2 linked regions of the Homo sapiens genome follow. The protein of the gene in region 2 interacts with the protein of the main gene of each other region in a biochemical or structural test. Each region holds a gene or a part of one and is shown on either strand. Other genes may lie near its edges.

Region 1 (3,500 bases), on a different chromosome or scaffold from region 2:
CTGCACTGGGAAGGGTTTATATTAATAGATACCAATCTGGAGAAAGATTTATTATTTTATCCTTAAAAGTATAACAGTATAGTATAGTATACAGTATAGATTATATACAGCTTATTTTCCACTTGTTTCTACATCTATGAAATAAAGTAGTGATCTATTTTCACTACTCTTTCCAAAAATGTTAAGTATGGAGTTTTGATACCATCTCTAGATGCCCTTACCTTCTTTCTAACCTAAATGTTTCTACAACTAAGTCCTAGCATTGTTAAGATGTGTGTGTGTGTGTGTGTGTGTGTGTGTGTATTCACACAGAGGACTACATACTTACATCTTTCACATTTCCCAACAAAATAAATACAAACAATAACTCCACTACGCACTATTTTATTTTGCCTTGTTTCTGAATTCCCCTTATTAAAACAATTCCTAGAATGACACCTGTTGGAGGATTCAGCCAGCACTGCCCTGTTCATCATTTTCATTATCAGAGCTCAATAATCATATCAAGTGGAAACACGGATTATTCCATTTAGGACAACTTAATTTGATCCTAAAACAACTGTAAGTGACAAAATAAGCCACTTGTAATTTTTATGGATTATCAACACACGAAGGAGAATGCCAAAAATTTCAACCAGAGTTAAGTGGGGAAATGGCAATGTTCCACGAGAGGATCAATGTGATCCTTAGATCCCAGGCCCAGTGTTTTCCCAGAACCTCAACAATCTAAAAAAAACCTCACGAAACTAAGTTTTAAAATTACATACACTTAGTTTTCATTATTAAAATATTAAATACAGATCAAAAGAATTCCCACAAGAATACAAAAGGAAAATAAACATACTTCCCACAACAGAATCTTCATGAAACTTTAAAAACCTTTTATGTGAAACTACGTTTCTTTAGGAGTATTTTCACAAAACACATTTGCACTAATGTGGAGTGTGAAGTTTACAAACTATTCAGAGTTCACACTGATATCAAACATCATAACATTTTTTCAGTTTTCCAAGGCATAGTTGTATGTAACTTATCTCACTTATCTCAAAATATCAAGCAATGTGGTTCTGAAATTGTCTATCCCCATTTATAAAAGGGAACTTAAAGACTTCAGAAACAGCAACAAATAAATGTTCTGTGACATTAAAAGATTAGTTCATGGATATGCAAGTTTGCTTTTTGCTTCAATTGAAATAAAAAATAGCCTGATTAATGTATTATTCACTTACTTTGTTATCAAATACTGTTTTAAGACCTATCATGAATTGATGTCTTGTACTTTTTTTTTTCAGTACTATGACAAACAGCATGAGTTTTGATTAAAAAAACAAGTCATGTTCAAAAGCAATTACAACCTTTTTAGGCAAAAAGAAACACCATTTGAAGAAGGAACACAGACCAGATACATATGATCAAAGTGTAAAGACTGAGAAGAATACACAGAGGGAAATTTTTACATTGACAGAACTAGAAAATGTGTTTGCGCAAAGGCAAAGGCTGATTTCAATAAACAAGTCAAAAATACCATAGGACTTTTTTCCTCTTCTAAAAATTAAGTAAAAGATCAAAAACACATACACACACTCACACACACACATACACGTGCACACACACAGAATCCCTGTGTTCTTTGTTTTGTCTTTAAGAACAATCTGTAAACTTTCTTGATGCTTCCTGCTCTCAATCTTCCAGCATCTCTCTTCCTGCACTCCATGAAAAGCAAGTAGGGGAAATGGGAGCAGCACAGATCCCTATTTAGCATGATGTTCACTGTCTTTAATACCAGTTTGAGTAGACCTGGTATACTGCACTTTAAAAATATTAGTAGCCAACACACTTTTTCTATATGGAATCTTATCACATGAATTAAATATTACCTTAAAGGCCAGAAAAACCTGTAACAAACCATCATTGCTAGAAATATGAGATTTGGTGGGAATGTTGGCATTAGCTTTGGTTAGTGGATGAGTCATATTTCCAGTTCTTAAGGACATGTACAGCACTAAAATATATTTGGCAAAAACAAAAGGGCTGTGATCTTGTGTATATATATGTGGGGCTCTGTTTTTGCTAGAAAAGAGTAGGAGGGAGTGTGGGAGGGGGCAGAGTGGCAGAGGGGTTGATTTATTTTTGAAATTCACTTTTATGAGCACAAAGAGAAGAGCTGTCAGCAGCACACATGCCAATGTCCAAACAGCAGCCAGACTCTCCTCTTTCCGTCTGGGTAGGCCAGACACAAAACTACATCTCACGACCTAGGAAAATCAAGAGTCAGATGCAAGAGAACTAGAGAGAGAAAAAAAAACAGTCCTGGAAATGTCCAGCTACATATGATTGCTAGTGATTAGAACGTGGAGTTTTAATGAATTGAGGGATCGAGGGATATTTAGCCAATCAAAACCAAAAAAAACTAACAGGCAAACCTTAAAGCAAGCTGGCTCCAAAGTATCTTCCTAGCAGGTAATAAGTATAAGAGAAATTAATCTCACCTAAAGAGACAACAAGGAGTCAGATACTGCTCAGGTGCTGCTTAGATGAGTTACAGCATTCTAAGTGCACATCAACAGGGTGACATGTCAGGAACTATAGACAAAGCAGGATCTCGAGCTGTATTTCCAGGCTCCTATCATACAAGAGAGACAATAGTCCCTCTCTAGGTCATTGATAAGACTGCATCTAGAAAGCTACATATTATTCTCAACACAGAGTTGAAAACCTGAACCAACAGTTAAACAAACAGCTAAAGAAACTGACTAAAAATATTTTTTTCTGTAGTTAGAAATGCCAGGAATGTTAATAGTGACTCTTCCATGGGTCTAACTCAAGTAAGGATTTATACGAGGTAAGTTAAAAAAATTAAGGATAATCGATCATTGTGCTGACAAAATTATGGTCTGGCCAATCTAGTATGTTTATGTTTAACAATAACTATGTTAAACAATAATTAAATGAATGACTGGCTGAGTGAAAACACACACACACATGCACACACACACGTGCGCACACACACACTCACACACAAATCCTGAACAGCCTGCACTTACTGGAGAGAGAATTTGGAAGGAGTAAAAAGCTGAGACTAAGGCACTTAATGATGATTACACCCCAGATAGCTGCACAGTGCTTTACAATTTACAGTGCTAGTTCCCATAAATTACTTCATTTAATCATAAAAAACATGTGGAAAGGTCAAGTTGGGTATTATTATCCCCATTTTACAGAGGAGAAAGCTGAGTTTCCAAGTCACCTTACCTGCATCTGGTTTCGTCAGTCATCTAAGTCCTTCTACAGAAAACTTTCTTACATTATATCAAGAGATCACAGCTATACAACCCAGTGAATAAACTTTAATACTTCTTTATTCTTCTATGCCTCGGTTTCCTCAGATATGACATGGGTGTCATTTTAAGTGAGAGGTGAAACTGAAAGAATGTATGAGTTGGGATTTACAGAACGTTCTGGTTTTAAAGAGGCTCACAGTGCAGCAGTTTTACACTTTA
Region 2 (3,500 bases):
GGCATGATCCTAGCTCACTGCATCCTCAAACTCCTGAGCTCAAGCATTCCTCCCATCTTAGTCTTCCTGATAGCTAGGACTATGAGAACATACTACTGAGCTAATTAGCACCCGGGCTAAGTTTTAAATTTTTTGTGGGGATGGTGTCTTGCTCTGTTGCCCAGGCTACCCTCAAGGAATCCTCCTGCTTCAGCCTCCGAAATGCTGGGATTAAAGTCATGGGCCACCATACCCAGCCTACAGATAGCATTTCATTAAGTGGAGACCTCAGGCTTTATTCTGAGGGAGGGTATTTAGATTGCTCCTATTCCACCTTTATAAACAATGCTGTAATGAATGTCTAGCCTTTGTCAAAGAGCGGAAAAAATTCTCATCAATTTTTAACACTTCTAGGCTTTTCCCCAAATGGCCAGATTGATTTCCAGAAGGACTGGACTAATTTCCAGTGCCATAACTGGTAATGGGTGTGCATATAGTTTTGTCATGTCCTTGTCAGCACTGGGTATTATCCTTTTTTCAAAATTTTGGCTTACATAACAGTCATGAAACTATTGGGGTGGGCTGGGTGTGGTGGTTCACGCCTGTAATCCCAGCACTTTGGGAGGCAGAGGCGGGTGAATTGCCTGAGGTCAGGAGTTTGAAACCAGCCTGGCCAACATAGTGAAACCCTGTCTCTACCAAAAACTACAGAAATTAGCCGGGCGTGATGGCACACGCCTGTAATCCCAGCTACTTGGGAGGCTGAGGCATGAGAATTGCTTGAACCCGGGAGGCGGAGGTTGTAGTGACCTGAGATCGTGCCACTGCACTCCAGCCTGGGTGACAGAGCGAGACTCTATCTCAAAAAAAAAAACAAAAAAACTTATTGGGGTGCTTGGCTGGGTGTGGTGGCTCACATCTGTAATCCCAGCACTTTGGGAGGCTGAGGTGTGAGGATCACTTGAGGCCAGGAGTTCTAGACCAGCCTGGGCAGCATAGTGAGACCCCCATCTTTATAAAAAGAAAAAAATACATTAAAAGAAAAAAACGAACTATTCGTGCTTTAGCTGAAGCTCAGTAATGACAGTTCTGTCTCCTGTCCCGCGCTTCCTTGTTCCTGTCATATTCCCCGTCCATCTCACACTCATTCCCTCTTTACCCATAGCTGATCATCCTGGCCAATGGTGGGCCCCAGGCCCTCGTGCAGATCATGCGTAACTACAGTTATGAAAAGCTGCTCTGGACCACCAGTCGTGTGCTCAAGGTGCTATCCGTGTGTCCCAGCAATAAGCCTGCCATTGTGGAGGCTGGTGAGTATGATGGCCTTGAGGGCGGCTGGGGTGGGAGCTCTGCCCAGCTGCCAGGCTCAGTCAGCCATGCTCCCCGTGGCTGATGGCACCCCTATCCCTGCCCCAGGTGGGATGCAGGCCCTGGGCAAGCACCTGACCAGCAACAGCCCCCGCCTGGTGCAGAACTGCCTGTGGACCCTGCGCAACCTCTCAGATGTGGCCACCAAGCAGGTGAGGGAGGTATCTGGGCCTGGGGTTGACCTCTTCAGCTGCCCCATCCAGCCTCCTGTCTGGGCATCTGACCTGAGGTACTGTGGGAGGACTGGGGGCTCTAAATCTCTCTTCCTTGTGACTGAGGCTGGAAATGCCTTGAAAACCCTCATCTCTTTTTTTTTTTTTTTTTTTTTTTCTGACGGAGTCTCACTCTGTCACCTAGGCTGGAGTGCAGTGGTGCAATCTCGGCTCACTGCAAGCTCCGCCTCCTGGGCTCAAGTGATTCTCCTGCCTCAGCCTCCCGAGTAGTTGGGACTACAGGCACCTGCCATCATGTCTGGCTAATTTTTGTATTTTTATTAGAGACAGGGTTTCACCATGTTGGGCAGGCTGGTCTTGAACTCCTGACCTCAGGTGATCCACCCGCCTTGGCCTCCCAAAGTGCTGGGATTACAGGCGTGAGCCACCACATCCAGCAAAAGAACAGTTTTGACCTGGGCCCTGGGCTGGAGCAATAGTGTACCAAGAGACAGGCCCCCATGACTAAAAATACAATTTAAGGAAAAATGCAGCTCCAGGGCAAGTGCCCTGTGCCTCCTTCCAACAACCATTCCCCAGGCCTCCCCTAGCAATATGCTGTTTATCAAGTGCTCACCCTGTGCTGGCCCTCTGCGTGGCATTTGTGGACAGTAGCTCATTCAACCTGGGGTTAGAGTGTGGGACCCTGTGGGTTAGATGAAGACACTGAGGCTCGGGGAGCTAATGGCCATGGTCACAGGTAGTAAATGGCAGAACTGGGATTTGAACCCAGGACTGTCCGTCCCCAAAGCTGGGGTTTTTCTGTTCCACCACAAGGCCCACGTGTCTCCCTGGGAGAAGTGAGATAGACGTCTGAGGTAGTGATTTTACTGGAAATGGATTTGGCTCAGGGCCCCAGGGTGGTGGGGCAGCAGTGAAGGCCCAGAAAGGTGACAAGCGAGTAGACATGGCTCAGCTGGGCCACTGAATCATGCGGCCCCCTCAACAATTGCCTCCTGGTCTCGAGGCCTCCCTTGGCCACCGTACTTTGGCCTGAGGAGGGTTCTGCCTGGGTCTGAGGGCCCCAGGGAAAGGCTGATGAGTTGGAGGGAAGAGATGTGGGGCTTAGAGCCAAGCCTGGGTTCAGATCCAGCCACTAGCTGTGTGTCTGTGGGCAAGTTCCCCAACCTCTCTGAGCCTCATTGCCTCACTTGCACCACAGGATAGTAACGCCCTCTCACAGGGTGTGGCGGGTCATAGGGATGAAAGTTCCCGGGCACACACAGGCAGGGCTGACCCCTTTAGGTCATCCCACTCCCCTTGGACATATTCGAGAAGGCTCCCTGGAGTTGGCTGCTCCCTGACTCCCCCGTCCCTTCCTTGCCCTCCAGGAGGGCCTGGAGAGTGTGCTGAAGATTCTGGTGAATCAGCTGAGTGTGGATGACGTCAACGTCCTCACCTGTGCCACGGGCACACTCTCCAACCTGACATGCAACAACAGCAAGAACAAGACGCTGGTGACACAGAACAGCGGTGTGGAGGCTCTCATCCATGCCATCCTGCGTGCTGGTGACAAGGACGACATCACGGAGCCTGCCGTCTGCGCTCTGCGCCACCTCACTAGCCGCCACCCTGAGGCCGAGATGGCCCAGAACTCTGTGCGTCTCAACTATGGCATCCCAGCCATCGTGAAGCTGCTCAACCAGCCCAACCAGTGGCCACTGGTCAAGGTACTGCTGTTAGGCGAGGGGAAGGAGCTCCCTGCAGCAGGCTTAGGTGCTGTATTGGTATAGGCAAAGCCGCTGTAGCAAAGAAGCCCTAAATACAGTGGCTCGAATAAGACAGAAGTTTATTTCTCTCTCGTGTAATAGTTTAGACCTCAACAATGGCTCTGCTCTAAAATTCCAGAATTGGGATTTCTATCTTGTAGCTCTACCAGCCCCTAGGGCAGAGCTCAGAGTTCAAAATGCACATGAGTACCCTGGGTGGTTTCATTAAATT

What was found.
Region 1: the proteins of JUP (region 2) and PTPRK form a complex in vitro, tested with the Homo sapiens proteins (one study listed by BioGRID).

What each region holds. Positions count from the first base shown.
Region 1 is NC_000006.12:128,514,100-128,517,599, forward strand, and holds part of PTPRK (receptor-type tyrosine-protein phosphatase kappa isoform b precursor), read right to left. Parts: intron 1-3,500. UniProt on the Homo sapiens protein: Regulation of processes involving cell contact and adhesion such as growth control, tumor invasion, and metastasis. Negative regulator of EGFR signaling pathway. Forms complexes with beta-catenin and gamma-catenin/plakoglobin.
Region 2 is NC_000017.11:41,762,712-41,766,211, reverse strand, and holds part of JUP (junction plakoglobin), read left to right. Parts: intron 1-1,144; coding exon 1,145-1,289; intron 1,290-1,395; coding exon 1,396-1,499; intron 1,500-2,890; coding exon 2,891-3,229; intron 3,230-3,500. UniProt on the Homo sapiens protein: Common junctional plaque protein. The membrane-associated plaques are architectural elements in an important strategic position to influence the arrangement and function of both the cytoskeleton and the cells within the tissue.